7 linked regions of the Homo sapiens genome follow. The protein of the gene in region 6 purifies or fractionates together with the protein of the main gene of each other region. This does not show direct contact. Each region holds a gene or a part of one and is shown on either strand. Other genes may lie near its edges.

Evidence for each region.
Region 1: the proteins of PAEP (region 6) and MELTF purify together in Homo sapiens (co-immunoprecipitation; 2 studies listed by BioGRID and IntAct, with this or other methods). This does not show direct contact.
Region 2: the proteins of PAEP (region 6) and STK4 purify together in Homo sapiens (co-immunoprecipitation; 2 studies listed by BioGRID and IntAct, with this or other methods). This does not show direct contact.
Region 3: the proteins of PAEP (region 6) and RTCA purify together in Homo sapiens (affinity purification with mass spectrometry; one large-scale study listed by BioGRID and IntAct). This does not show direct contact.
Region 4: the proteins of PAEP (region 6) and SLC25A23 purify together in Homo sapiens (affinity purification with mass spectrometry; one large-scale study listed by BioGRID and IntAct). This does not show direct contact.
Region 5: the proteins of PAEP (region 6) and MGME1 purify together in Homo sapiens (co-immunoprecipitation; 2 studies listed by BioGRID and IntAct, with this or other methods). This does not show direct contact.
Region 7: the proteins of PAEP (region 6) and TMEM192 purify together in Homo sapiens (affinity purification with mass spectrometry; one large-scale study listed by BioGRID and IntAct). This does not show direct contact.

What each region holds. Positions count from the first base shown.
Region 1 is NC_000003.12:197,004,964-197,009,623, forward strand, and holds part of MELTF (melanotransferrin isoform 1 preproprotein), read right to left. Parts: coding exon 4,655-4,660; intron 4,003-4,654; coding exon 3,846-4,002; intron 3,762-3,845; coding exon 3,694-3,761; intron 1,774-3,693; coding exon 1,586-1,773; intron 1-1,585. UniProt on the Homo sapiens protein: Involved in iron cellular uptake. Seems to be internalized and then recycled back to the cell membrane. Binds a single atom of iron per subunit. Could also bind zinc.
Region 2 is NC_000020.11:45,074,190-45,078,354, reverse strand, and holds part of STK4 (serine/threonine-protein kinase 4), read right to left. Parts: intron 3,338-4,165; coding exon 3,179-3,337; 3' UTR 1-3,178. UniProt on the Homo sapiens protein: Stress-activated, pro-apoptotic kinase which, following caspase-cleavage, enters the nucleus and induces chromatin condensation followed by internucleosomal DNA fragmentation.
Region 3 is NC_000001.11:100,268,759-100,273,418, reverse strand, and holds part of RTCA (RNA 3'-terminal phosphate cyclase), read right to left. Parts: intron 2,863-4,660; coding exon 2,739-2,862; intron 26-2,738; coding exon 1-25.
Region 4 is NC_000019.10:6,445,945-6,450,604, reverse strand, and holds part of SLC25A23 (mitochondrial adenyl nucleotide antiporter SLC25A23), read left to right. Parts: intron 1-4,660. UniProt on the Homo sapiens protein: Electroneutral antiporter that mediates the transport of adenine nucleotides through the inner mitochondrial membrane. Originally identified as an ATP-magnesium/inorganic phosphate antiporter, it also acts as a broad specificity adenyl nucleotide antiporter.
Region 5 is NC_000020.11:17,985,149-17,989,110, forward strand, and holds part of MGME1 (mitochondrial genome maintenance exonuclease 1 isoform 2 precursor), read left to right. Parts: intron 1-3,017; coding exon 3,018-3,150; intron 3,151-3,962. UniProt on the Homo sapiens protein: Metal-dependent single-stranded DNA (ssDNA) exonuclease involved in mitochondrial genome maintenance. Has preference for 5'-3' exonuclease activity but is also capable of endonuclease activity on linear substrates.
Region 6 is NC_000009.12:135,564,397-135,568,256, forward strand, and holds the end of PAEP (glycodelin isoform 1 precursor), read left to right. Parts: intron 1-941; coding exon of another isoform or gene 942-1,013; coding exon 1,014-1,118; intron 1,119-1,388; coding exon 1,389-1,405; exon of another isoform or gene 1,406-1,434; intron 1,435-2,137; exon of another isoform or gene 2,138-2,156; 3' UTR 2,157-2,559; downstream 2,560-3,860. UniProt on the Homo sapiens protein: Glycoprotein that regulates critical steps during fertilization and also has immunomonomodulatory effects. Four glycoforms, namely glycodelin-S, -A, -F and -C have been identified in reproductive tissues that differ in glycosylation and biological activity.
Region 7 is NC_000004.12:165,081,493-165,086,152, forward strand, and holds part of TMEM192 (transmembrane protein 192), read right to left. Parts: intron 4,197-4,660; coding exon 4,094-4,196; intron 1-4,093.

The sequences.
Region 1 (4,660 bases), on a different chromosome or scaffold from region 6:
CTCCTGGGATAGAGGGGTTCTGTGGGGAAGATGACAGGAAGGAACATGCGTCAGTTCACAATGTCAAAGTTTAGGAACAGGCCTGGCGAGCCAGCCAGCTCTGCAGTTCTGTGGTGCTGGTGGGTGTGGAGAAGGCAATTTCAGCATAAGTCGGGGGAGGGGGAGTGGTTAGAAACCAGTGGCTCCATTGTGAGACAACCTGGGTTTAAATTCTAGGTATATTTTGAAAGCACAACCAATGGGATCTGCTGATAGATTGGCTGTAGAGCACGAGAGGAAGACCGGAGTCAAAAATGACTCCCGAGGAAATGGAAAAGCTAAAGTTGCTCTTAATTGAAGTGGGGAAGACTGAAGGAGGGACGGGGGTCCAACTTTGGACTTGATCCATTTGAGATGACTGTTAGAAACACAAGTCAAAATGTCAAGTATGTAGTTAAATATGCAAGTTTGGGACTGATGTCTGAAGATGTAAATTTAGAAGCCATCTGTATATAGATGGTATTTGATGACATGGGATTGGATGAGATCAAGGGTAAGCTGTAGACAGGGAAGAGGGCTGAGAACTGAATCCTAGGGCTAACAGGTCAGGGAGATGGGGAGGAAATCAGCAGAGAAGACTGAGGAGTGGCCAGAGAGTGAGAGGACAGCCAGGCAGGGCTGAGGACCTGGGCATCTGCAGGGGAAGGTGTTTCCAGGAGGAGGGAGAGCTGTGGCCAGTGCCACTGAGAGGTCAAGTAAAATGAAGACTGAGAAATGGCCACTGGGTTTAGCAACATGGGTCACTGTGACCTTGACAAGAACAGCTTCAGGGCCCTGGTGGGAGCCTGTCTGGGGTAGTCTCCATCCTTAAGAGGGGCCAGAGGAGAGGACTTGCTAACTCAGTCTCCATCCTTAAGAGAGGCCAGAGGAGAGGACTTGTTAACTCCAGAGCAGACCACTCTTTGGAGGAGTTTTGCTTCGAAAGGGAGCAGGATTGGCCGGGCACAGTGGCTCATGCCTGTAATCCCAGCACTTTGGGAGGCCGAGGTGGGCGGATCACGAGGTCAGGAGATCGAGACCATCCTGGCTAACACGGTGAAACCCCTTCTCTACTAAAAAATAGAAAAAATTAGCCAGGCATGGTGGCGGGTGCCTGTAGTCCCAGCTACTCAGGAGGCTGAGGTGGGAGAATGGCGTGAACCCGGGAGGCGGAGCTTGCAGTGAGCCGAGATAGTGCCACTGCACTCCAGCCTGGGGCGACAGAGTAAGACTCCGTCTCAAAAAAAAAAGAAAAAAAGGGAGCAGGATTACAGCTGCAAGAGGATGGATGTGAGACCAAGAGGTTAGTTTGTTCTTTAAGGATGGCAGAAGTCACAGCATGTTTCATGTTGGTGAAAATGGTCCGACTGAGAAGGGAAAATCAACGATGCAGGAGGCAGAGGGGACAGTTTCTGGAGGGATGTCCTTGCGTAAGTGAAAATCACAGAATTTCCCCCGGGCTTCCTCAATTTCTCTAGAGGTCTGCTCCAGGTAGACTGAGGCCTCCCAGGGGCTCAGCTTACCTCTGCTGCACACCCCTCAATGAGGTAGCCCCACCCTGGCTCACCTGGGCCTTGTCCAGCAGTCCATACACGGTGAAGATGTTGGTGTCGGGCCGGACCATCACGGCGTGGGGTGGTATCTGTGCCAGGTTGCAGGCTGCAAACTGGGACACCTCGGCTCGGGCCCCGTTGGGGCACAGCAGTTCATAGTCCTCTGACCTGAGCTCAGCAGCCCAGGGCTCGGAATTGTGGCCTGAGGGGGGTAAAGCAGTGTGTGTGGGGACGTTCCGGGAGTGGAGAGAAGTGTAAAGAGAAGCTGCTATCCTGGGACCCCAAGGCCTTCACCACAGGGAGGTGGCAACATCTGGCCAGCTCCCCAACCCTCTCCATTCTCCACGTGCTCTGCTGTGTTACCGGGGTGAAAGAACCCAGCTGTGTTCATGCCATTAGCAGGAGCTGCCATTAATTAGCAGGGAGTAGGGAGTACCTACTATGTGACAAGTACTTTACACGCGTTGCTTGATCCCCACAACAGTAACGCAGGGTAGGTGTTTTTGTCCCCATTTTACAGGTGAGGAAACTGAGGCTGTTAATCACTCCCAGGCAGAGAACCCCATCTATGTGTTACATCCTCAAGCCTGAGTGTGGGGTGGCTCCCTGAAGGTGGTGGGTGATTGTCCCTAAGGGCTGAAGTTCTCAAATGGAACAGGGTATAGCATCACTTGTGGATGCAGAAGGCAGCTTCAAGGGCCCTTGCTTGCAAAGAATCTTATTCAGGAGGTCTCAGATCAGGCTCAAGAATCTGCATGTTAAACCAGCATCCCACTGATTCTAAAGCAGGCGGTCTCGGGCTGCCTGAGAAAATGCTGCCCTCAGGAATCACATTTTCATGTCTCTGTGCATTCACTTAGTATCCATCCTCCTCCCATTTCCAGGAAATCCAGGTGGGCCTTGAGGAGAGCTAAAGATAAAAGGGAAAGGAGTGGCCCTGGGAGGCGGGTGACTCACTGCAAGTGAACCTCCCAAGGCCTCTCCAGCACCTGCCCGCCTCCCCTGACCCCATCCCAGACGACACCATGCACAGATCTGGGACCAGGCAGGCCCGCTGGGCTCGTGCAGGAGCACACAGCCCCTCCCTGGGGGAGGGTTTCAGGTGTTCTTGGTAGGAGGCTGGGTGGGGGAGCTGGGCTGTGGCAACAGGAAGGGTTCAGGGCCTGGAGCCCTCCCTAGCTCTGCTGGGGCAAATGGTCCTACCGCCTTGGTGACCCCCATAGGAGGCAAGATCCAAGTTTTGAAACACTAACTGAGGTTTTCGTTTTTTTCCCTGCACGTCTTGCTTCCCATTGTCCAGTCCCCTCCCCACCGGGCCACAGTTGTGCCTTTCTGGGCTAAGTCTATAGGAGGAGACATGTTGGGAGCGAGTGGAGAAGACTGGGCCTCCAGCATTTGGGGTTTCAAAGCCTGGGGTGTAGGCAGGGTATGCAGACAGTACAAGCCTTTGGTGTTGGAGGAAAACAGCCTCTAGTCTTCAAAACGGACACAGATTCCTTCACGGAGAACAAGAAGAAGGGGAAGTGATATAAGTCAGGGGAGCGTGTGCTCTGATAGGACCATGTATGTACTGGGGTCCCGGAGCAGAGCGTTCCTGAGCTCTTTGTCCCAGGCGGAGCCCAGGAAGGTGACTCCAGGAAGAAAACCCCCTGTGTGGTATGTTGGGCGTGCCCTGCCTCGGTGTGGCTTGGGGGCTGCAGAGAGATTTCCTTGCATGAGGCAGTGACCTGCTCAGGAACACAGACCAGATACTGATTGAACTCATGACCCTGTGGAGAGGCTCATGCCACTCCCACCTCACACCTTGGCACTACATCAATACTCCCAGAAGGGGGTCTTTCCAGATTGACTGGGATTGAGTTTCTACCGTTTCGGTGGATTAGGGACTTGAATTCCAGGCCAGTAAAAACCGTCATGTATCCAGCACCCCTGGATGTGTGGTCTGAGGTCTGTTCTTACCCTGTGACCCTTGGGGCTCCCAGCTTCCCAGGGGGCACAGCCTTCTAGACTCAGCCTCTCTGAGCTGCTGCTTGGCCCCAGCCCAGCATGGTGTCTGGATGGTGCTGAAGATGGGGAACAGTCCCCCCGACCTACCTTTGGCCCTGCTCTTGCCCCCACCTACCGTTTGTGTTGTCAAAGACGGTTGTGTGCCTGACGAAGGCAACGTCACCCGCATTCTCCACCAGGCACCTGCCACACAGAGGGCAGGGCAGGCGTCGGCAGGAGGGTCCCAGCCTCTGCACACAGCCCCAGACTGCCAGGCCACCCGGGTACCTGAAGGCGCCGCGGTAGCCGTAATACCGCTCCTGGCTGTTGCCCACACACTTGTTGCGGCCCTGCTCGTCCCCCACGCACAGTGCACACAGCGAGGAGGGGTAGTTCTTGGGGTTGTTCACGGGCACGCAGCTGGCATTGAAGAACTCGCTCACTGCTGGGGTGGAGGGAAGGGCAATGATGAGGGGCCAGCAGTGGAAAGTGTGGGAGGGAGCTGGGCGGGCCGCTCCCCCACAGGTCTGCCCACCCCCCGGATCCTACACTGCAAGGCCACCTGTCTGCTCCGCTCCCCTCAGCTCTGAGTGGAGTGTCTCCTGGAGGATCTCAGTGCGGGGAATGCAGAGGTTGTCTAGATACAGCATCTCCATCACCAAACATCACCCAGCCTTCACTTGAACTCCCTCAGGGACAGGGATCTCACTACCTCACTATTTTGTTCCAATCAGAGCAGGTGTCCAGCTGTCTGGGAGTGGGAGCTGCCAACCCTAGTGCCCTCTGTGTGCTTGTGTCAGTGGTTAGAAAAAAAAGTGCTTGTATGTTTTCTGAGTTAACAGCCAGGACAGAGGTGTGTGGCCTGTCAGCCCAAGGGTCTTGCCAGTTTCCATGAATATTGTGTGATCTAACACACTGGAGGGGCTTCATGTATAGCATATGGTGGGTCCTTCTGTCCCCAGCTTATGGAGATACCTGGGCACATATGCAGAAGCCTGGCCACCTTCCAACAAGGTCCTCTCCCCAACAGGCTGCGGGTCCCTAGCTAACCCCAGAGAAGGCTTCCCCAGTCTGCGTTCCTAAAAAGGGGGGGGTACCTGTGA
Region 2 (4,165 bases), on a different chromosome or scaffold from region 6:
CAGCACCTGTAGTGGCAGCTACCTGGGAGGCTGAGGCAGGAGAATTGCTTGAACCTGGGAGGCGGAGGTTGCAGTGAGCCGAGATGGCGCCACTGCACTCCAGCCTGGGCAACAGAGTGAGACTCTGTCTCAAAAAAAAAAAAAAACACAAACAAAAAAAGAATTCTGAGATTTTTTTTTTTAAAGACAGAATCAGGTCATTGTTTCTTGAAGGCAGAGAACAAGCGAGGACCTCAAATTTCTCTGGAAGCTCGAGTTCCAAATGCTCAAGCAATAACAGAAGCCCAAGGCTCATTGAAAGCAAGCTGACATATCTTAAATTTAGTATTCAACAACAACAACAACAACTAGGACTTGTTCCTTTGCCTTTCTGTCACTAGAAAACAAATATACCTTGTCAGGAAATTTCTCTGATCCAAAACAAATTGACTTCTGGCCAAAAGGCTTCATCAAGCTAGACTGGTAAGCAATAGACTTTGTTGGATCAGCAAGCTGGGTGCACACATTCCTGAAACAAAACAAACTCCAGATCAAAGTTCATGACCCAAGAATAGTTATGGGGGAAAACTGAACTTTCTTTTATTTGGATCTAGCTTAGGAAGGGAGAAAATGGGCTTTCTCCTCCTCTCTGGCCAAGTGCAAAGTTCTTTGTTTAAAAAAGAAAGAGAGGCCAGGAGCGGTGGCTCATGCCTGTAATCCCAGCAGTGTGGGAGGCTGAGGCGGGTGGATCACCTGAGGTCAGGAGTTCAAGACCAGCCTGACTGACATGGTGAAACCCCGTCTCTACTACAAATACAAAAAAATAATCTGGGCATGGTGGCATATGCTGTAATCCCAGCAGAAGAATCGCTTGAACCCGGGAGGCGGAGGTTGCAGTGAGCCAAGATCGTGCCATTGTACTCCAGCCTGGGCGACAAGAGCGAAAATCCATCTCAAAGAATAAAAAGAAAAAAGAAAGAGAGAGAGAGACAGAACTATTAATTCGCACAGCAAATGGTGCAGGGGTGTGCATCCTGGATGCTTTGGTTTTTAAAACTTACTTGGCTATCAGACTTAACTACTAATTCAGCTGTCTTTCCAACCTAAAAATGCCAGTTCGAGTTATTTAGTCTATGCAAGAAAAGGTGGTCACTTCATTTTAAACAGGCTTGTGACTTTCCTTTTTTGTGTAAATATTGACCCCCTATAGTGATGCTATGAATCCTGATTCTATCATTTACTAGCTGCATGACCTTGGGAAGGAATCTTTCTCTCTGAACTTATTTCTTCAACTACAAAATGGAGATAAAGTAGTTAAGTCACAGGGTTATTGTGAAGTTTAGAGCCTACCCAGCTCAGTGCCTGATATATAATAGGTGCTCAACAAATGGTAGCTGTCATTTATTATTCCAGCAAGATCCTCAAATTGTCCTCTGTTTTCCGTATCCGCCACATAGCTATTTCAGTTGCCAAGCCCTGAAGACTAACAACTGCCTCTTGCATTTTTTAAAAACTTGCTTTAATTGCAAATAACAGAATCTGGCCACAGAAGAGGCACATTCCCTGCCTTTCCATTGATTCCCAGGTTTCAGGAGCAAAAGCAATTATGGAGTCAAATTACAGTATCCTGAGGTGCAACCCAGTCATGGCTCCCCATCTGAGGGAAAGAGGTAAAGTTGCAGGAAGATGGCTCTATGCTGTCTTTTGCAAAGCCCTCTGATCTGCTTCAGGCCCGAAACCTGCCTCCATGGGTGCTTGTCTGCTATATCTGGTAGATGTTGTGGAGCTCAAGGACTCGCTGAAACTGAATGATCTGGCTCGTCCAGGGAATCTCTTTACAGCCAGGTCATCTACTGAAGAGCCAAGGCAAGAGCAAGTTTCTGTTAGCAAGGTTCCCTGGAACAATTAACCAAGACTGACACAGGTCTCTTCCCCCAAAGAAGGGGCTGCATGGTTCGGTGGCCTGGGAGTGAGGACCCTGAATTCTAGTCTCAGCTCTTAACGCTAACTTGCTTTGTGATTTTGGCCATTCCCCTCTCTACACCTCAGTTTTGCGATCATCCGTACAAGAGGATCAGATCAGATGATCTCTATAGTCCCTTCCAGCTCTGACATTCTGTGTGTTCAGATTGAGCCTCCTGGAAAACAAATCTTAGTCTAATATTCATTTATCCTTTCCAGGCTGCTTAGCAGTAAAAGAGAAAAGAAAACAGTCACATATTTGAACGTGGGTCACAAAAGCAATCCCCTCTACCCCTGTGTGTAAGGAATGTGGAGCAACATGCCACGTGTATGATTTTTACATGAACAATGAGAGCTTCAAAAACGCTTTTCCTTTGTGGACTGAACACAGTCCCGTGTTTGCTGAGAGTCCCTGGTAGAGATCATGTCTCCTCTTAAGGCACTGGGCAGTATCTGTGCTGTGACTTTAGGCAGTTGAGAGAGTGGAGATGGATGAAAGGCATTGAAAGAGCAAAGGCCAATTTGCAAAGAGGGTGCCAGGCTTCTCCTGGGACTCAAAGAGTAAACATAAACTCTCAAAGCTTTCCCTTGGACATCACCAATAGCTCCAGAAGCCAGTGATGACCACACAAGGCTGAAACCACGGTACAAGAACTGTCCCAAACCTAATTTTTAAATGCAGCCCTGCAAAGGGGGAGGTTGGCTCCTGGGATTCAGTGACCCCCTAACAGCCTCCCGGTGTCCTCTGCCCTCATGTTCCACAGTACCATAATCTTACAGAAAAGAGGCAAACCGTTTAAAACTGTACCTGTACAGAGATGCCACCACACTGCGTGGGGAATCTATTTATAATTTATATATATATATGCATATTTATATTTTTTTAAAAGTCTTCCAGAAAGAACAATTGAAAGCTATTGGGAGAAGAAAAACAGACAATGTAAAACTTTCCCAGCTATCACTCAACTAGGAGTCTCTGTTCCTGGGGTTTAAAACTCTGAGTTAAAAGCGCCAATATAAATCCTTTGAGATAATATACCTGACCAATGTACATACACACATCAAGATGGCACGCTGACTGTCAAGAGAGCCCTTCCCACTGGCGCACATTCCTGAGTTCACAAAGGTGCTGTGGAGAGACGACAGAGCAGAAGTGCTGGCTAACAAACATGAGGCAAGCCATCCAGAATTCACCCAAAGCCTGGGTGGAGCTGGGGCCCTCACAGCCTGGCCTTGCTCAGAAGTTTTGTTGCCGTCTCTTCTTAGCCTCTATGGCATCCAGGATGGGCTGCCGCTTGGACTGGTACTTCTGCCGGATCTCTTCAATCTCCTGCTCCATCATGGGGTCCAGGGCCAAGAGCCTCTTCTGAAGGTCCTCCACTGTCCAACTCTTAAGCTAGAAGAGAAGTGGAAGGTATAGTCACGACAAAGCTTAAGTCAGTGGCAGAACAGTGCAGAAGCCCAGCCTTCCCAGGCACCCAGAGGGAAGGGAGACAGGAGGAAGACACTGTGGTCAGATCACAGGTTGAGTGGTGGTGGTTGGAAAGTGACAATTCATTCCAAAGCATGGCATACCTTGAAGCTTGTCTGAGATAATTTATCCCTGGAAGAGATCTAAGTGCTAACCGCTTTGATTTAATGTGCCTTGACCAAGAACTTAGTGAATAATACTCTCACCTCCCCTATCTTTTAAGTTAATTAAATATAGATTCATTGTTAGGGCATTAAAATAACAGTAACTTGCTGTATGTGAAATAATGGTTGCCTCCCCGTTCTTGTTCTGTCTACGAGATAAGCGTCTATCTGGACAGCGCCTTTCCCACTTTCAGGATACGACACCATGGAGGATCGATGCTGATGAGGCGCAGATGCCATCCCCTAACCCTGCCTTCCCACACCCCCAATGTCTTGGCACTGCCCTATTATCATCACCAGCATTTACTTGAGGCTACTATATACCAGGTAACAGTCTAAGCCCCTTGGGAATACAGACGCAACCCTTGGCAGGGGTTGGGGTAAGGGTGGGTAGTTAGAAAAACCTCAAACTTCTGAGATTAAGTTTCTATCATCCAAAGAAAAACAATGAGTTGATATATAAATTAATAATAATGGCTGGCATTTAGTGTTTTCTATGCACCAGACACTGAGTGCTTTACATATATGGATTCCTTTAATCCTCAGAGCAACCCATGCTACAAGGACATTATTATCCCTATGTTACAGA
Region 3 (4,660 bases), on a different chromosome or scaffold from region 6:
ATTTTTCAACAATTGGCTTGAAGACCTGAAAAAATCAGTTTTTATCATTAGGTTAATCAGCAATATTCACTAATTTAACAAGTGTATTTATTAAACAAAAGCGCTTTGCTGGCTAGTAACTGGGTGCTATAGGTAAACAGTGTTATAAGAATATGTAGGCTGGTTCCATTTTTTTCAAATAAAAAAACTGATATGTAGCTAAATTTAAAAGTTTGACATTTATTTAATCAGAGCTGTGCAAGTCTATCTAACGAAAAAAATTGGAACTTAGGATATTTGATATCAGTGGTTATTCTACTCCGAAGGCCAATACTTCCTCACGCATCTCAATATAGTACATTTAAGAAATGAGGGGGTATTGGTGAAGAGCATTCCATTCTGTCATCTCAATTTTTTGTACAGTTGAAATCTCATTCCACAGACAATGCTTTAACATTATAAACATAAGCATTTTCCTGACATCATAAAATTATTCCTAAACAAAATCTGAATGACTCCATGGCATCCTAGCCTAATTGACTTAACGGTTCTCCAAGTTTTCATTATTAGATAATGATATATCTTATATAATGATAATTACAGTATATAATGCTCTGTTCAAATACCTTTAACATTTATCTTTAGCTGAACTTTGCAATATTGAATTAGAGGAGTTTCCTTGAAGTCAAATTATTAGGTGAGGAGAGATTAATTTTTATTATACATCCCATCGAACTGACTTTGAAAAGATTATACCATCTATTAGAATGGCAATATTTCAGAGAAAGATGGTGTTTAAGCCTGATGTCTAAGGCAACTCTTTGAGATCTACTCTAGAGATTTACTTATTTCTCTGGGTTGTCTCCTATGTATCCAGGAGGTATACAGGTTATTAACCTTGTTTTGTGTTTTTTTTTAAAGGCAGAAAAAGCTTAACAAATAAAAACCTGAAAATATCAAGTGCTAGGATGGATACAGAACAGCTGGAACCCTCTATTTGATATTTATTTTTATTTTAGAGATGGGGTCTCGCTATGTTACCCAGGCTAGACTCCAGCTTAAGCTCAAGAGATCCTCCCACCTCACCCTACCAAGTATTAAATAGCTGGGACTATAGGCACACACCACTGTGCCCACTTCAGCTGGAACTCTCATATAGTACTGGTAATAATGCAAAATGTAGCCACTTTGGAAGCTAAAATAACCTGGCTATGTATTATAAAGTTAGACATTTGCTTATTATAACAACCCAGCAAGTATTTTCCCAAGAGAAATGAAAATGTACAATCACACAAAAACTTGTATATGAATGTTAACAGTAACTTAATTTATAATTGCCAAAATCTGGAAACACCCAAATGCCCTTCAATAGATGAATGGATATGCAAACTGGTACATCCATATACGAGAACACAACTCAAGTTTTCATTGCAGATACAAGCAACATGGATGAATCTCAAATGTATTATGGAGAGCAAAAAACCCAGACTCAAAGCCTACGTACAGTATTATCCCTTATATGACATTCTGAACAAAAGGCAAAACTATGACAGAAAACAGATCAGCAGTTGCCAGGGGCTGAGGCTCAGGACTGATTACAAAAACGTATAAGGGAATTTTTTAGAGTAACGGAACTATTCTATGTCTTGATTGTGGTAGATGGTTCATAACTGTGAATCATGTCACTGTCAAAAATCACAGAACTGCATGTTAAAAAGGGTGGATTCAATTGAAAAAATTACACTTTAATAAATCTAGAAGAAAAAAGATTATACCACTTTTCTCTCCCACTAGTTATATGAGCATGCCAGTATTTTTTAAATCATTTTTTAAATGTTTGATCCTAGAATGGAAGGGGCTTAATAGAAAAAAAAAGTTTGAGTTTCCCTCCAAATCATAATCCTTGTATTTATAAAATAACACATCACAACTGATATAATTTATATCACACTCGAGGTGTTTTTTGTTTTTTTAAAGACAGCATCTTGCTTTATCACCCAGGATGGAGTGCCAACATAGCTCACTGCAAACTCAACCTCCCAGGCTCAAGTGATCCTCCCACCTCAGCCTCCTGAGTAGCTTGGACAGGTGTGCACCACCATGCCTGGCTAATTTTTCTGTGTGTAGTGTTTTTTGTTTTTTATTTATATTATTTTTTTGTAGAGATGGGATTTCACCATGTTGCCCAGGCTGGTCTTGAACTTCTAAGCTCAAGTGATCTGCCTACCTCAGCCTCCCAGAGTGCTAGGATTACAGGTGTGAGCCACCACACCGGGCCCTACACTTGAGTTTTTTTTTTTAATTCACTATAAACACTATTCCAAGATATAACAACAAACTTAAAGTAAACATAATTCCCCACCCCCTACTGCAATAGACACATTTGGGAGGCTGAGGTGGGAGGATCCTTAGAGCTCAGGAGTTCAAGACCAGCCTAGGCAACATAGTGAGGCATCGACTCTACAAAAAATTTAAAAAAATTGGCTGGGTGTGTGCCTGTAGTCCCAGCTACTCAGGAGGCCAAGACAGGAGGATTGCTTGAGCTCAGGAGGTTGAGTATGCAGTGAGCTGTGATATGCAACTGTACTCCAGCCTTGGCAACAGCACTGTCTCAAAAAAAAAAAGAAAGAAAGAAAGAAAAGACACCATGAAGAGATAAACAAGAAAGTCACAAAAAAACACTCAGGATATATTTAGAGAATGGAGACTCAGAAGCATGTATGAGATCATCTTAGTTTGTCAACAACAAAAGCCCTTACCATCACTGTATAATCGATCTGTGGTGCCATTTCAGCATTAGTTCCACCTTTCAAATGAAGTTCTGATGGAGAAGCAGCAAAGAGAACACACGGCATTGAGACCTGCATCAAGAGGCACACACTCCTAAGGAGAAGGCAGAAGGGGCTTATTTTCATTTTCTTTTCTGCATTTTCTTTTCAAACTCTTAAATAAGCTATATTCTTGTTCATCACTACCAACTAAAGCACAGACAACTGTGAAGGCAGGTATATGCCATTGAGTTTCTAGTTAAAAAACATTTTAGTGTCTGAATAGTAAAATCCTGAATTTTAAAGAAAAACAGTATTTCACCATAGAAAAATAGCTTTAAATGATAACCAAACCTGGGTCTGAATCTTCAACTAAACACATTAGCTGTGTGACCTTGGCTAAGTTCTGATACTTTTCTTTATATTACAAAAAAGTAAAAAAGAAAAAAAATTAAAAATAAAACCTTCTTCAAAAGTTTTACAAAAGAATTCTTGAAACTAGCAGTTTATGAAAATGCTTTCAAAATAGACAAGGTCTGGATATGATTAGTTACTATATAACAAGGTACTGTTCCAGGTATAAAGATATAGTTCCTGTCATTGTGGAGTTCATGATATGATAGAATAATATTTTACGCAGCCATAAAAGAGAATGAGTTCATGTCCTTTGCAGGGACATGGATGAAGCTGGAAACCATCATTCTCAGTAAACTAACATAGGAACAGAAAAGCAAACGCTGCATGTTCTCACTCATAAGTGGCAGTTGAACAATGAGAACACATGGGCACAGGGAGGGGAACATCACACACCAGGGCTTGTCGGGGGGCAGGTGGCAAGGGGAGGGAGAGCACTAGGACAAATACCTAATGCATGCAGGGCTTAAAACCTAGATGACCAGTTGATGGGTGCAGCAAACCACTATGGCACATGTGTACATATGTGACAAACCTGCACATTCTGCACATGTATCCAGAACTTAAAGTATAATAAAATATTTTAATAATTATTAATTTTAATAATAACAAACACTCACAGCTTGGCCGGGCGTGGTGGCTCATGCCTGTATCCCAGCACTTTGGGAGACAGAGGTGGGATGATCACTCGAGCCCAGGAGTTCAAAACCAATCTGGGCAACATAGTGAGACTCCATCTTTACAAAAAATTTAAAAATTAACCAGGCATTGTGGTGCACGCCTGTAGTCTCAGCACTTTAGGAGAATCGCCTGAGCCCAAGAGGTCAAGGCTACAGTGAGCCATGATCATGCCACTGCACTCCAGCCTGGGAGACCAAAAAAAAAAAAAAAAAAGACTGATAGCTAAATATTTCACATGGGAAGTTTTAGTGAAGTAATCCTTGCTTTACTTGCCTGTTTGGTCCTTATAGTCAAATAATGTGAGAAATCACAAGAAATAGTTATGTAACATGATGAATTTCATAAAGTGAAACACTTGGTCATTATCTTTTCTTTTTTTGAGACAGGGGCTCCTTCCATCACCCAGGCTGGAGTGCAGCGGCACAATCTCAGTTCACTGCACCTTCCACCTCCAAGGCTCAAGCCTCAGCTTCTCAAGTAGATGGGACTACCGGCATGTACCACCATGCCCAGCTAATTTTTATTTATATATATAAATATATAAATATATATATATGACGGGGTTTTGCCATGTTGCCCAGGCTGGTCTCAAATTTGTGAGCTCAAGCGATCCACCCACCTCGGCCTCCCAAAGTGCTGGGACTACAGGCGTGAGCCACCGCACCTGGCCTGGTTGTTTTCTAAATGAGCCATTATCTCCCTTCTCCAAAGTTAAGTGAAAGCAATCATATTCATAAGTAGTTTGAAAGGGAATTCGACATAGCCTCTTAGCTATCAAAAGACAGATCTTTATTTAACTCACTTACACAATGATGCTT
Region 4 (4,660 bases), on a different chromosome or scaffold from region 6:
CTCATTCGCTTAGTGACTATTTACTGACCATCTACTCTGTGCTAGACACTGTGCGGATTGTGGCAGTTGTGGTGTTGAATGAGACCAGCATGGTCCCTGCCATCCTGGAATGCCCATTCCCATAAACAAGGCAGGCAATCAACCAGCAAATAAGATAGTTTCAGCTCCTAGAAAAGCTCTCAGAAGATCACAAGACAGGATTTGTCATCTTCAGTAACAGTGGGCGGGAGGGGGGTTGAGGAACGCCTCCAAGAAGGTGACATTGAAGCCATGGGTTGGGCGTATTATCACAAGGGAGCATGCACAAATCTAGTACCCAGGTCTGGAAGCAGGAACAAATACGGCCTTTTGGAGGAGTGGAAGTCTTAGGTGTCTGGGGGGGACTGATCAGGGCAGGGTACAGGGTCTTCTAAGTAAAATAGGAAGCCATTAAGAGGTATGAGTAGAGGCCGGTCACGGTGGCTCACACCTATAATCCCAGCACGTTGGGAAGCCGAGGCCGGTGGATCACCTGAGGTCAGGAGTTCAAGACCAGCCTGGCCAACATGGTGAAACCCCAGCTCTGCTAAAAATACAAAAATTAGCCGAGCGTGGTGGTGGGCACCTATAATCCCAGCTACTCAGGAGTCTGAGGTAGGAGAATCGCTTGAACCCAGGGCGGGGCATGGGGGTTGCAGTGAGCCGAGTTCTTGCACTGCACAGGTGACAGAGTGAAACTCCATCTCAAAAAAAAAAAAAAAAAAAAAAGAGTTGTGAGTAGAAATAAGATGCGGCCAGGAGCAGTGGCTTGTGCCTGTAATCCCAGCACTTTGGGAGGCCGAGGTGGGAGGATTGCTTGAGCCCAGGAGTTCGAGACCAGTCTCTATAAAACAATTTAAAAATTAGCCAGGTGGCCAGGCACGGTGGCTCACGCTTGTAATCCCAGCACTTTGGGAGGCCGAGGCGGGTGGATCACAAGGTCAAGAGATCGAGACCATCCTGGCCAACATGGTGAAACCCCATCTCTACTAAAAATACAAAAAATTAGCCAGGCATGGTGGCGGGCACCTGTAATCCCAGCTGCTTGGGAGGCTGAGGCAGGAGAATGGCATGAACCTGGGAAGCGGAGCTTGCAGTGAGCTGAGATCGTGCCACTGCACTCCAGCCTGGGTGACAGAGCAAGACTCTGTCTCAAAAAAAAAAAAAATAGCCAGGTGTGGTGGTGCACACCTGTAGTGCCAGCTACTCAGGAGGCTGAGATGGGAGAATTGCTTGAGCCCAGTACGCAGAGGTTTCAGTGAGCTGTGATCATGCCAATGCACTCCAGCTTCAGCAACAGAGCAAGATCCTGTCTCAAAAAAAAAAAAAAAGAAAGAAAGAAAGACAGAAAGAAGACACAGTCTTATTATTTAATGCATTCTTTACCCAAAAAGGGACTTTAAAAGTCTAAGAGGTTTTAGAAACCTTGGAGTTTCAAAATCTGTGTTTGTCCCTTAAAGGCTCCGAGAAGTCTCTCAGTAAAGTGATTTAACTTTTTTTGTTTTTAACCCAGTGCTGGCCACATTAATCTAGTCTTTAGAACTTTTTTTTTTCTTTTTTTTTGAGACAGAGTCTCACTCTGTCACCCAGGCTGGAGTGCAGTGGTGTGATCTCAGCTCACTCCAACCTCTGCCTCCCAGATTCAAGCAATTCTCCTGCCTCAGCCTGCCGAGTAGCTGGGATTACAGGTGTGCGCCACCACGCCAGGCTAATTTTTGTATTTTTAGTAGAGACGGGGTTTCACTATGTTGGCCAGGCTGGTCTTGAACTCCTGACGTCAAGTGATCCGACCACCTCGGCCTCCCAAAATGCTGGAATTGCCAGGTGCAGTGGCTCACACCTGTAATCCCAGCACTTTGGGAGGCTGAGGGGGGTGGATCACAAGATCAAGAGATCAAGACCATCCTGGCCAACATGGTGAAACCCCATTTCTACTAAAAATACAAAAAATAGCTGGGCGTGGTGGTGGGCACCTGTAATCCCAGCTACTCGGGAGGCTGAGACAGGAGAATCGCTTGAACCCAGGAGGCGGAGTTTGCTGTGAGCCAAGATCGCGCCACTGCCCTCCACCCTGGGTGAGAGAGCGAGATTTCATCTCAAAAAAAAAAAAAAATGCTGGGATTACAGGCATGAGCCACCACACCCGGCCGTCTTTAGAACTTCTTTTCAACAGATTGATCTTAATAATAACCCATTAAACATCTATTTGGCAAGTGCTGTTCTAGACCCAAAAGAAGGCTTCTAAAATTTCAAAGGCAATAATGTTAAGTACTTGCCTATTTTACCCAGTCTGTGCCTGGGCTAGGCATTACTAATCCATCACAGCACTGAGTCCTGCTCAACACAATTCCAGTTTCAGGCAGCAATTTCTGGTGGATTAGAATTGGCATAGGAAATGAAACCTATAAGCCTCTCCCAGCCGCAAAGCAAAGAAGGTCTTGTTCTTACAGTCACCTTGGCAGAAGGCTTCAGAAGGGATTAGCCACCCTAAAGTCTTCAGGTGCACAGTTCTAGATTCACATACAGCTGTGAATGTTGGTTCTCACCTTTATTTTGTAGCTTTGGGCAAGTAACTTCCCGAGCCTCAGTTTCTTTTCTATAAAATAGAGATAATAGGGCCGGGCATGGTGGCTCACTCCTGTAATCCCAGCACTTTGGGAGGGAGAGGCAGGCAGATCACTTGAGGTCAGGAGTTGGAGACCAGCCTGGCCAACATGGTTAAACCCTGTCTTTACTAAAAATACAAAAATCAGCCGGGTGTGATTGTGTGTGCCTGCAATCCCAGCTACCTGGGAGGCTAAGACAGGAGAATTTCTTGAACCCGGGAGGTGGAGGTTGCAGTGAGCTGAGATTGTGCCGCTGCACTCCAGCCTGGGCGACAGAACGAGACTCCGTCTCAAAAAAAAAGCAAAAAATTAGCCAAGCCTGGTGGCACATGCCTGTAATCCCGGTGGCATAAGCCTGTAATCCCAGCTACACAGGAGGCTGATGCAGGAGAATCACTTGAACCTGGGAGGTGGGGTTGCAGTGAGCCGAGATGGTGCCATTGCACTCCAACCCAGGCGACAGGGTGAGACTGTGTCTCAAAAAATAATAATAAAATAAAAATAAAGATAATTAGCCGGGTGTGGTGGTGCACAGCTGTAATCCTGGCTACTCCAGAGGTTGAAGTAGGGAGGATCACCTGAGCCCAGGAGGCGGAGGTTGCAGTGAGCCGAGATTTCACCACTGCACTCCAGCCTGGGTGTGAGAGCGAGACCCTGTCTCAATAATAATAATAATAGTTTTGGTCTTAGTTTGAGATCCTTCCAAAACAGACCCTGAAACTGGGACGTGAGGACAAGTGATTTATTGGGGAGGTAATGAGACAGGGAGTCAATGCACACAGTATGAGTATGTTAGTTTCCTAGGACTGCTGTAACAAAGTATCACAAACTGGTTGGCTTAAAACAACAGAAAGTTATTGTCTCACAGTTCCAGAGGCCAGAAGTGCAAAATCAAGGTGTCAGCAGAGCCATACTCCCTCTCAAACTTGTTAGGGGAGAATCCTTCCTTCCTTCCTTCTTTCAGTTTCTGCTTGTTCCCAGCAACCCTGGACATTCTTTGGCTTGTAGATACATTCACTCAAATCTCTGCCTCCGCTGTCACCTGGCTGTCTTTCTCCGTGTGTGTCTCTGTCTTTCTCCTCTACGGACACCAGTCATACTGGACTAAGGGTCTACCCTGTTACCCTACTCATCTTAACTAATTAGATCTGCAAAGACCCTATTTCCAAAGAATGTCACCTTCTAAGATACTGGGGGTTAGGACATCAACATGTTCCCCCCCAAAGGAGGGACATGATTCAACCCGTAACAGTATGTTATCAAGCAAGTTACTATTCCTAGCAAATGGAGTTCCAGCCCTCTAGAGATCTGTGGGAGGCAGCATAAGACATGCTGCACCAGAGAGATGAGGGAGCTGGGGTATTGATCCACCAGGTCAGTCTTTTGAAGGTTGCATCTGGAGATGCTAATTTCCCAGGGCTTTCTGCCCATTCCTAAGTGGTCAGAGCCGGCTGGCCTGCGTTCAGAGAAAGTCCACAAGCAAAGTCTTTGGGTAAATGTTGGCAGTAAGAAGTCAGCAGGTCTGAATTGGAGTGGGAAGGGATGAAGGTGGTGTACTCACAGCATCTACCACAGGCAGTGTCGTTGGAGAGTGTTTTTTTGTTCATTTGTTTGTTTTTGAGACAGTCTTGCTCTTATTGCCCAGGCTGGAGTGCAGTGGTGTGATCTTGCCTCGCTGCAACCTCCGCCTCCCCGGTTCAGGCGATTCTCCTGCCTCAGCTTCCTGAGTAGCTGGGATTACAGGTGCCTGCCACCACACCGGCTAATTTTGGTATTTTTAGTAGAGATGGAGTTTCGCCATATTGGCCAGGCTGGTCTCGAACTCCTGACCTCAAGTGATCCACCCATCTCAGCCTCCCAAAGCACTGGGATTACCAGTGTGAGGACGCCAGGCCCGACCTTTTTTCTTTTTGATACTGAGTCTCACTCTTGTCGCCCAGGCTGGAGTGCATCACGGCTCACTACAGCCTTGAATTCCTGGGTTCAAGCAATCCTCCCACTTCAGCCTCTTGAGTAGCTGGGACCACAGGCATGCA
Region 5 (3,962 bases), on a different chromosome or scaffold from region 6:
CATGGTGGCTCATGCCTGTAATCCCAGCACTTTGGGAGGCCAAGGTGGGTGGATCACCTGAGGTCAGGGGTTTGAAACCAGCCTGGCCAAAATGGCAAAACCCCATCTCTGCTAAAAATACAAAATTAGCCAAGCGTGGTGGTGCATGCCTGTAATCCCAGCTATTTGGGAGGCTGAGGCAGGAGAATCGCTTGAACCTGGGAGGTGGAGGTTGCAGTGAGCCAAAATTGTGCCATTGCACTCCAGCCTGGGCAACAAGAGTGAAACACCATCTCAAAATAATTAAAGAAGTTTATACAGTAAAAAAGTTACAGTAAGCTAAAGTTAATGTATTATTGAAGAAAGAAAAACGTTTTTTATAAATTTAGTGTAGCGTAAGTGTACAGTGTTTATAAAGTCTATAGTAGTATACAGTAATGTCCCAGGCCCTCACATTCACTCACCGCTCACTCACTCAATCACCCAGAGCAACTTCTAGTCCTGCAAGCTGCATTCGTGGTAGGTGCCCTATACAAGTATACTGTTTTTTATCTTTTATACCACATTTTTACTGTACCTTTTCTGTGTTTAGATGCACTAATGCTTACCATTGTGTTATAGTTGCCAGCAGTATTCAGTACAGTAACATGCTGTACAGGTTTGTAGCCTAGGAGCAAAGGTCTGGGTGTGTAGTAGGCTATCCTACCTAGGTTTGTGTAATATACTCTATGTTTGCACAATGACAAAATTGCCTAACCATGCATTTCTCAGGACATATCCCTGTCATTAAGCTACACATGACTGTACTTTGAAATCAGGCAGTGTGATGCCTCCGACTTCATTCTTTTCACTCAAGATTGCTTTGGCTATTCGGAGTCTTTTGTGGTTCCGTGTTAATTTTAGGATTTTTTTTTTTCTATTTCTGTGAAAAATGATGTTGGAATTTTTTTTTCTTTTTGAGACAGAGTTTCACCCTTGTCGCCCAGGCTGCAGTGCAATGGCACAGTCTCAGCTCACTGCAACTTCTGCCTCCCAGGTTCAAGTAATTCTCCTGCCTCAGCCTCCCGAGTAGCTGGGATTACAGGGGCACATCACCACGCCTGGCTAATTTTTGTATTTTTAGTAGAGACGAGGTTTCACCATGTTGGCCAGGCTGGTCTGGAGCTCCTGACCTCAGGTGATCTGCCCACCTTGGCCTCCCAAAGTGCTGGGATTACAGGTGTAAGCCACCGTGCCCGGCAGAATTTTTTTTTTTTCTTTTTTCCTGAGACAGGGTCTGGCTTTGTTACCCACGCTGTTGTGCAGTGGTGCAATCTCGGCTCACTGCAAACTCCACCTCCTGGGCTCAGCCTCCTGAGTAGCTGGGACAACAGGCTCCAGCCACAACACCTGGCTGATTTTTTGGTATTTTTTATAGAGACAGGGTTTCACCATGTTGCCCAGGCTGGTCTCGGGCTCCTGAGCTCAAGCAGTCCACCTGCCTTGGCCTCCCAAAGTGCTGGAGATTACAGGTGTGAGCCATCACACCTGGCCTGCCATTGGAATTATGATAAAGATTGCGTGGAACCTATAGATTGCTTTGGATAGTATGGACATTTTAACAATATTCTTCCAGTCCATAAACAGAGGATATCTTACCATTTATTTGTATCATTTTCAGTTTCTTTCATCAATATTTTATAGTTTTCAGAATGCTATTAAGGTTTTTTTTTTTACATTTATTAAGTTCTACAATTACAGTACATTGCTGCAAACAGTGTTCTGTGGCAGAAATATAACATGGTGGCTCACACCTGTAATCCCAGCAGTTTGGGAGGCCAAGGCGGGTGGATCACTTGAGGTTAGGAGTTGAAACCAGCCTGGCCAATAGGGCGAAACCCCATCTCTACTAAAAATACAAAAATTAGCTGGGCGAGGTGGCGCACACATGTAATGCCAGCTACTCAGGGGGCTGAGGCAGAAGAATAGCTTGAACCCAGGAGGCGGAGGTTGTGGTAAGCCGAGATTACACCACTGCACTCCAGCCTGAGTGAGACTCCATCTAAAAAAAAAAAAAAAAAAAGAAGAACCAGGAATGGCATCCTAGAGTTACTGGGGCCCTTTTCTCAACTACACAGATTGTCAAACTTGGCAATATTACAAAACAATTCTGAAGACAATAAAATTATCTCTAAACCTAAACTGTCCAGTAGAGTAGCCACTAACCCCTATAGCTATTGAGCATTTGAATGTGGTCAGGCCAAACTAAGGTGTGCTATAGCAATATACAAACTACATTTCAATGACTTTGTACAAAAAAGAATGTAAAATATCCCTATAATAAAAAAAAGACGTAAAATATCCCATTAATCATTTGTTAGTTGATTACATGTTGAAATGATATTTTGGATATGTTGGGTTAAGTAAAATGTTAAAATTTCAGCTGTATTTTTTTTTTCTTTTCCGATGTGGCTACTAGAAAATTTAAAATGACACATGGCTCACATTTTACTTCTTTTAGCCAGTGCTGCTCTAGACTGAGTTTGCATGAGGTGTAACTGTCTAGAGCTATAGTGACATGTAAGTAATATACATGCTTTGTACAAAATCTCCCTATAAACTGCTGATTTTGAAATTGAAGTCATGAAAGACAGATTGAACCGATAGAGTCCTTTGAGAGTCACCAGTTACTGGTCCACTCTCTGTATCCTTTTGATATTTGCATTTGGCAAGTATAAACCCGACCAGGATAGGGGATGGGGGGAGGAATCCACTGGTTATTTGATGCAAAAAAAGAGGGAGAAAAAGTGGGGGGGTGCACTTATAGTCCCAGCTACTTGGGAGGCTGAGGTGGGAGGATCACTTGAGCCCAGGAGTATGCGTTTAGCCTGGGCAACATATGAAACCCCATCTCTTTTTTAAAAAAGGAAAAAAATGGTGAATAAGAGCAATGGTCATTGGCTGACAAGTAACAAACTATACATAAGAGAACTGTTAACCTAGTAGAGATTTTCATTGTGATCTATTACCTACAAAGTCTTCCTGTGGTTTCTCTTTAGGGGCAAGCTCTGTGTGATTGATTGGAAGACATCAGAGAAACCAAAGCCTTTTATTCAAAGTACATTTGACAACCCACTGCAAGTTGTGGCATACATGGGTGCCATGAACCATGATACCAACTACAGCTTTCAGGTCAGGACACTGAGCCTTTACTTAAAGCTTTGCTCAATGCTTACTTAAAACTATAACTCCGGGCCGGGCGCAGTGGCTCATGCCTGTAATCCTAGCACTTTGGGAGGCCAAGGCCGGTGGATCACTTGAGGTCAGGAGTTCAAGACCAGCCTGGCCAATATGGTGAAACCCTGTCTTTACCAAAAATACAAAAACTAGCTGGGCATGGTGGCTCATGCCTGTAATCCCAGCTATTCTAGTAGCTGAGGCAGGAGAATTGCTTGAACCCGCGAGGTGGAGGTTGTAGTGAGCCAAGATTGCGCCACTACACTCCAGCCTGGGCAAGAGAGTGAGACTCCATCTCGAATCTGTCTCAAAAAAAAAAAAAAAAACTTCTCAGTGGGGGGGTAGGAGGAGAAAAATTGTAAAAAAAAAAAAAGTTAAAAAATAGAACTCCTTGAGGTTTTTCCTTTTTTAATCTCTATTTTTATCCCATTGCTTAACGTCTTCCTTGTTCCTTTCCCACTTAAAAAAGCACTTTTTGGCTGGGCACAGTGGCTCACGCACTTTGGGAGGCCGAGGCAGGCAGATTGCTTGTGCTCAGGAGTTTGAGTCCAGCCTGGGCAACATAGTGAAACCCCGTATCTACAAAAAAAATACAAAAATTAGCTGGACATGGTGGCGCACACTTGTGCCAGCTACTTGGGAGGCTGAGGTGGGAGGATTGCTTGAGCCCAGGAAGTGGAGGTTCCAGTGAGCCGAGATTGTACCACTGCACTCTAGCCTGGCCGACAGAGCAAAACCCTGTCTCAAAAATAAATAAATAGGCCAGG
Region 6 (3,860 bases):
CAGCTACGTCCGTGGCTGGGAACCCTGGGGAGCTGACAACTGGCTTCCTGTCCACCTCGGTGCCTGTGGGCTGACTTTTTTTTTCTTGGTTTTTTTTATTTGTTTGTTGTTTGCTTTGTTTTTTTGAGAAAGGGTCTCATTCTGTCACTCAGGCTGGAGTGTAGTGACGTGATCTCGGCTCACTGCAACTTCTGCCTCCCAGATTCAAGCGATTCTCGTGCCTCAGCCTCCAGAGTAGCTGGGATTACAGGCGCACGCCACCATGCCCAGCTAATTTTTGTATTTTTTGGTAGAGACGGGGTTTCACCATGTTGGCCAGGCTGGTCTCCAACTCCTGGATCAAGTGATCCACCCGCCTTGGCCTCCCAAAGGGCTGGGATTACAGGCGTGAGCCACCACGCCCGGCCAGGCTGAGTTTTTCTCCAGCGGTTCATCGAGTCCTCTGACAAAGCAAGGAGCTGATATAGGGCCAGTGGGACGGTCGCCAGTCAAGGGGCTGGGCTTGGTGGATAGATTAATACTCACTGGGCGTCCAGTCAAAACGCCCTGAAACCTATGATGCTGTCAACCAAACGAAGGCCAGGAATACCAAAATAGCCACATAGGCACAGCCCTTCCCCATGTTTCTGAGCACAGTGTTTCCTCTGGGGTCACACAGGTGTCTTCTTGATCAGCCTCAGCCATGCTTGGTGAGAGCCGGGCACTGGGAGAGCCAGGCACTGTGCTCTCCTGTGACGCTGTAGACACCATCCTAAGCTGTGCAGACCCCAGCGCTGCCCAGAGCGGAGCAGAGGGGGCCGGGCCAAGGAGTGGGAGCTGGGGTCAGGGAACCTGGAGGTGCAGTGGACAGAGCCCCGGAGACCGCCCTAGGGACCTACTCCAGACCAAACTCTGCCAGACCTCGGAGCACTGGGGCCTCCTTCTCTGCCCTCCCTCCTCAGGCAAGGCCTCTGGAGCTCCCCAGCTCTCATGGAAGCCCCAGGGGCCCAGGACTGACCCAGCCTCTTCCACAGCCAGAGTCCTGGTGGAGGACGATGAGATCATGCAGGGATTCATCAGGGCTTTCAGGCCCCTGCCCAGGCACCTATGGTACTTGCTGGACTTGAAACAGATGGAAGGTGAGCTCTGCCTAGGACACGCCCAGCCTCAGCTGGAGGAGAAGCTGCCTCTTTCTTAGCCCGAGCCCCCTGCTGGCTCTGCAGGACTCAGGTCACTCCTTTTTGGCCCCTCCCCTGTTCTCCCCTGGCCTTCTGGGGTGCAGAGCCACCCTGAGGTGGGGTCCTGCCCTCTCCCACCATCCTTTCATCCCTTCTCTAGCCCTGGGGCTGCTGTGTCCCCAGCTGTCTCTTCTCTCGCTGACACCTCCACTGTCCCATCTCCTCCCACAGAGCCGTGCCGTTTCTAGGTGAGCTCCTGCCTGGTCCTGCCTCCTGGGTAATGTATCAGCCTCGCCCACTGTCTGCGGCTGCCTCTCTGGGCCCCTGGGACAGACCCTACTGTGTCCAGTTCAGGGCTGACCCTACAGGAATGAACTGGGGTCTGGTCTTGTGATTCCAGAAAGCCAGGCTGCTGACGTCCCCATTCACGAGCCCAGCCTGTGTCTTGCAGCCATTGTATTAGTCACGGGCTTGTGCCCTATAGTCAGACCTCATGCTTTCTTTTGGGGTTAGGGGTGTTGGTTGGAAATGGTGGGGGCTATAGGAGGAGGAAGGAGGATGGTTACATGGAAGGGCATGAGAAGCTGGGGACCTGCAGGTCTCGGTCCCACGTTCTTTTTTTTTTTTCTTTTTTTAAGATGGAGTCTCGCTCTGTCACCAGGCTGGAGTGCAGTGGCACAATCTCAGCTCACTGCAACCTCGACCTCCTGGGTTCAAGCGATTCTCCTGCCTCAACCCCCCGAGTTGCTGGAACCACAGGCGTGTGCCACCATGCCCAGCTAATTTTTGTATTTTTAATAGAAACGGGGTTTCACCATGTTGGCCACGATGGTCTCAATCTCTTGACCTCATGATCCCCCCGCTTTAGCCTCCCAAAGTGCTGGGATTTCAGTGCCACATTCTTAAGGGGGTGTCCTCAAGCCCACCACATCCTTCCAGGGCTCCCCCGAAACACCCTGCTCTTCCTCCCTCTACTTAAGTGACCTGTAAACCCAACAGCTCACCTCCGCCTCCAGGAAGACCAGACTCCCACCCTTCCACACCTCCAGAGCAGTGGGACTTCCTCCTGCCCTTTCAAAGAATAACCACAGCTCAGAAGACGATGACGTGGTCATCTGTGTCGCCATCCCCTTCCTGCTGCACACCTGCACCACGGCCATGGGGAGGCTGCTCCCTGGGGGCAGAGTCTCTGGCAGAGGTTATTAATAAACCCTTGGAGCATGTCCTGTCTGGATGCGCAGCCACTGCTGGGTGTGGGATTCAGGGACGAGGGCCTGGGGTCGGGGCAGGCCCAGGCCACCGCCTGGCAGAACCGGAGCTCCTACAGACCCATGGGCAGCTTCTGGTGGAGAAAATACCTCAAGTTTCTTATCTACAAAACAAAAGGGTCCACTTTCACAAACTTGTGAAATGTCTAGAACAATAAAACCAGGACACTCATATCAGAATTGATGAGCCCAGAGGAAAACTCATAGTCTTTAATACTGAAATGGGTTAGCAAGAAATAATTAAAATCAATGAATCTGTAATGAGCTCTTGTTAGAAAAAAAAGCGTTAGAATGAGGAAAGTAAGAAAATAGAATGAAGGAAGATAAAAGCAAAAATGACAAAATCAGAGAAACATATCAAATTCATGCACCTGTGCCCCCAGGTGGGGAGGGGTGGGCATGGTAGGATTTAGCTCACCTGTCAGAAACACCCAGGAAAAAAAATTCCAGCAAGTATCAATCACCACAGATTAAGAGAAAATAGATTAAAAGAGTCATAAGGGATTATGCTATTTGACTCCAGAATATATTTTTTACAATCCAAAAGAGATGATTTCAAGGCAAATATAAGCATCCAAAACAGATCAGAGAAGACTGGAGACAGAGTAGGTAAGGACCCTTCCCAAGGCAGACAGACAGACACAGTCAGAGGTCTGTGTCCCAGCCCAGCCCCCAGCATCGAGAGCAGCCGGGCAAGCGGCCAGGGATCTCCTGCTCCTTTCGGGAACAGGTGAAACGAGGCAATGTGAAGAGTCGCAGGCATGGGGAGGGGGCAAAGCTTCCACACTCGTTTCTAATGCTGGGAAAATATCTCCATCAAAACTCCACAAAACCAGGCCCTACCAGGAGTAACTAGGACTTGTGAGGCAGTAAGGAACGTCCGCACTGTCTATATAACAAACAGGCCATTTTAACCCAGGCATGGGGGCTCACACCTGTAATCCCAGCACTTTGGGAGGCCGAGGCAGGCAGATAACCTGAGGTCAGGGGTTCGGGACCAGGATGGCCAACATGGTGAAACCCCATCTGTATTGAAAATAAAAAAAATCAGCTGGGTGTGGTGGCGGACGACCTATAATCCCAGCTACTCTGGAGGCTGAAGCAGGAGAATCGCTTGAGCCCAGGAGGCAGAGGTTGCAATGAGCCGAGATCGCACCATTGCACTCCAGCCTGGGTGACAGAGCGAGACTCCATCTCAAAAAAAAAAAAACCCAAAAAAACAACAACAACAACAACAACACTCAAATAGGCCATTTCATCCTCATGACTGCCCATGGGGCAGAAGCCCTTACTGTCTCATTGCCCAGCTGGTGGGTGGCACATGGACTGGCAGGGAGTCTAATACCCACACATGCAACCATTGCACCTGCTGGCTCCATCACCACACCACCCTGTGTGTCGAAGCAAACACCCCGAACAGTACCGGTGCCCCTGG
Region 7 (4,660 bases), on a different chromosome or scaffold from region 6:
CCTGCCTCAGCCTCCTGAGTAGCTGGGACTATAAGCGCCCATCATCACGCCCGGCTAATTTTTTTTTTTTTGTATTTTTCAGTAGAGATGGGGTTTCACCATATTAGCCAGGATGGTCTCGATATCCTGACCCCATGATCCACCCGCCTCGGCCTCCCAAAGTGCTGGGATTACAGGCGTGAGCCACCGTGTCCGGCAGAGACCGAGTCTTGCTCTGTGGCCCAGGCTGGAGTGCAATGGCGCAATCTCGGCTCACTGCAACCTCTGCCTCCCCGGTTCAAGCTATTCTTCTGCCTCAGCCTCTAGGATTACAGGCATGTACCACCATGCCCGGCTAATTTTTGTATTTTTAGTAGAGACGGGGTTTCACCATGTTGACCAGGCTGGTCTCAAACTGCTGACCTCAAGTGATCCACCCTCCTTGGCCTCCTATAGTGCTGGGATTACAGGCGTGAGCCACCATGACTGACCATCTTCTTTTTTTTTTTTTTTTTCAACACAGAGTCTCACTCCATTGCCCAGGCTGGAGTGCAGTGGCATGATCTCGGCTCACAGCAACCTCCGCCTCCAGGGTTCCCGCGATTCTCCTGCCTCACCCTCCCGAGTAGCTGGGACTACAGGCGTGCACCACCACACCCAGCTAATTTTTATATTTTTAGTAGAGATGGGGTTTCAGCACGTTGACCAGGCTGGTCTTAAACTCCTGACCTCAAGTGATCCACCCGCCTCAGCCTCCCAACGTGCTGGGAATACAGGCCTAAGCCACCACACCCAGACCTGGACATCGTCTATATACAGTAGACTTTCAATTAACATCCCTGTTCCCTGCCCTATGTTCCACTCCTGGGCATCCTGTTCATTTCTGAGTTCCAAGTCTCTCTGGGGCTACACAAAAAGAGTGGCTGCCTCCTTGGCTTTATTTCTCCCCGTGTCCTCTAAATGTAGCCTCTCTGCCCTGTGGTATTGTCTACCGCTCCTTCATCTGTATTCTGTAGCCCACACATTTTCAGAAATCACTCAACCATCGATGGTCCCTTTCTCCTCCAGTTTTTCTGCTAGTGTGGGTAGGTTGGTCTTTTTTAATCCTTCACTATCCTTTTGGAAGGATCTGGGGAGGGTGAAGGGATAAACGTGTGGCTAGATTTACCTTCTTTCATTGGAAGTTGATTCAAATTTTCAAACTGAGATGCATTTTCAAAGAAGCATTCCATACAAATTTTAAAAGTAAAAGAGGAATATAAACTGAATTTTTTTTTTTTTGGAACAAAGTTTCACTCTCGTTGCCCAGGCTGGAGTGCAATGGCGTGATCTCGGCTCACTGCAACCTCTGCCTCCCGGGTCCAAGCGATTCTCCTGCCTCAGCCTCCTGAGTAGCTGGGATTACAGGTGCGCACCACCACGCCCGGCTAATTTTTGTATACTCAGTAGAGACAGGGTTTCACCATGCTGACCAGGCTGGTCTGAACTTCTGACCTCAGGTGATGCACCCGCCTCGGCCTCACAAAGTACTGGGATTACAGGCGTGAGCCACCACGTCCGGCATAAACTGAATTTCATTGCCCCAAAGTTAACCCCATGAGGTGAAGGGAATACATTTTAAAAAGCTTTCCATTAAGTCATAAGAGAGCAATATTAGGTAAACTCTTCAGTGCTCAGGGGGAACAAGATGAAATATGAAAAGGGTCAAGGTCAGGAAGAACAGTCTCTGAATTTAATAAGCCCAAAAGTCAACAAAGAGATAATCAACAATTGATACTAAAGTTATTCCTCTATTTAGGTTAGAATGAAGAAAAAGAGTAAACAAAATAAGAAGGCAGATCATGGTAAGTGAAAAGTGACAAAAAAAAGTTGTATTTTCTAGGGGAAAGAATCTATTTCACTAAAGACACCTCCGTTTTCATAGTTCTGTACGTATTGAGAATTATAGACAGTATAATCCAGGCTTCAAGAAACCGAGGGTAAAGGATTCTAGAACTATCAAGATATCATCAGTTTACACTGTGGGACAGAGATAACGATCCCAAGAAGAACAACCTTGGACTTGCTGCTCATTAAGTGTTTGTTTTTGTTTTTTGTTCTTTTTTCTTTTTATTCATTAAGTATTTATATTCCACACTATAATAAAAAGCAATGTGCATCCTGATTCAACACTGTCACACCTGTGTTGTCACTTCACACCTGTGCCTAACAACAGTTCAGTTTATAAAAGCTAATTTAAAAATGACACTAATTCAAAAATTGGCCTTACTAAAAGCCAATACATTAAACTATATTTATTTCAACAACTGTTTTTAAAAGTATCTCTTTCCTTTATCTATAAAGTTTTTTGTTGTTGTTGTTTTGTTTCGAGACAGAGTCTTGCTCTGTTATCCAGGCTGGAGTGCAGTGGCGCAATCTTAGCTCACTGCAACCTCCGCCTCACAGGTTCAAGCGATTCTCCTGCCTCAGCCTCCTGAGTAGCTGGGACTACAGGTGTGCATCACTTTGCCCAGCTAATTTTTGTATATTTAGTAGAGATGGGGTTTCACCATATTGGTCAGGCTGGACTCAAACTCCTGACCTCGTGATCTGCCCACCTCAGCCTCTTAAAAGTGCTAGGATTACAGGCATGAGCCACCGCGCCCAGTCATGTTTTTTTCTTTTTCTTTTTTTAACTAGTACATCAGTAATGGCACTGAGTCCATTTCTTAAGCCCCTAAGTAATACACTTTCTTTTTTTTGTTTGAGATGGAGTCTCGCTCTGTTGCCCAGGCTGGAGTACAGTGGCGCCATCTTGGCTCACTGCAACCTCTGTCTCCCGGGTTCAAGCGATTCTCCTGCCTCAGCCTCTCAAGTAGCTGGGATTACAGGTATGCGCCACTGTGCCTGGCTAGTTTTTGTATTTTTAGTAGAGATGGGGTTTCATCATGTTGGCCAGGCTGGTCTTGAACTCCTGACCTCAGGTGATCTACCCACCTCGGCCTCCGAAAGTGCTGGGATTACAGGCGTGAGCTGCCCCACCTGGCCCACACTTTCTTTATATATACTGACTATATTCTTATGTCTGTTGCTATCCACTTCAGATGATGTTAAGGAATAACTCGTGTCCCAGATTATATAGATCCAAAAGCAGGATGAGAAGAACCACAGACATGGCCAGGAGTGGTGTAATCATGCCTGTAATCCCAGCACTTTGGGAGGCCGAGGTGGATGGATCACTTGAGGTCAGGAGTTTGAGACCAGCCTGGCCAACATGGTGAAACCTTGTCGCTACTAAAAATACAAAAATTAGCTGGGCATGTATAGTTTTTTACATCTACTTTAGCCCCAAGATCTCCAACAGATATGAATGATATTTTAATTACCATGGAAGTCACTTAGGGAGAGACTGGATAGAAACAAGGGTGGGCAGACCGGGCTGGCTGTTTGGGAGGCTGAAATGGGAGGATTGCTTGAGCCCAGGAGTTTGAGGCCAGCCTGGGCAATACAGAGAGACTCTATCCCTTAAAAAGAAAATAACAGGCCGGGCGAGGTGGCTCACGCCTGTGATCCCAGCACTTTGGGAGGCTGAGGCGGGCGGATCACCTGAGGTCAGGAGTTCAAGACCAGCCTGACCAACATGGAGAAACCCCATCTCTACTAAAAATACAAAATTAGCCAAGCGTGGTGGTGCATGCCTGTAATCCCAGCTACTGGGAGGCTGAGGCAGGAGAATCGCTTGAAACTGGGAGGTGGAGACTACGGTGAGCCAAGATCATGCCACTGCACTCCAGCCTGGGCAACAAGAGCAAAACTCCATCTCAAAAAAAAAAAAAAAAAAAAGACACCTATAAAAAAAGGTGCTTCAAGGAGGGAGTAACCAGTTAATGATGTCAAAAGCTCTTGAGAGGTTAAATAGGTTGGCTAAGTGGTTAATTTTTTGCATCAAATATATGGCCTATTTAATACATTTACACATCCTGATTTAGACTTGATTTCACCACAGCTGAAAGGAAATAAACAAATCAAACAAATGTAAAAGTACAAATACACAATCATAAATTCCAAGCATCAGAATGGTTTCTAGCTTTCTAGGGGAAAAAACTCAATTATTTTATTCTCACCTAAATCTTACCTGAATCCAGTCTCCGAGGTAATATTGCTGGGGTAAGCATAGATTTTTTCTTCTTCAAGTATATCAGGCTCTGGTTTAGCTTTATTAAATCTCCGGATTTTCACTAAAATAATAAAGTCATTATTAGATCGAATTCTGAAAGACAAGTCTAGTTTCATTTTTTCAAATTATGCTAATTTGCCGTTCTTATTAACGTCCTTGAGTATTTCAAATTCTACTATGTGCCAGGCCTGTTCTAAGCCCTGGGAATATAGGGATTACATTAGTATTGAAATAGCAATAATAGCTGACATTTATTGTGCACTTAGAACACATGAGGCACAGTTTAAATGTTTTACATGGATGCCCTCATTCAGTTCTCATAAACACCTGCATGAAGTGGATGCTCCTATTACCCCGCAGTGAAGCCCAGAGAAGTTGAGCAACCAGCCAGCCATCTAATTCAGAAATCATGACTTCCTCTGGTCCAGGGGAAAATACAGATAATAATCCTACATTCTAAGACAGTATGGAAAGTACCTTCAATAGAAGCTTGTGCAAGAGGCTTGCACAAGGAGTTGTCAAGCT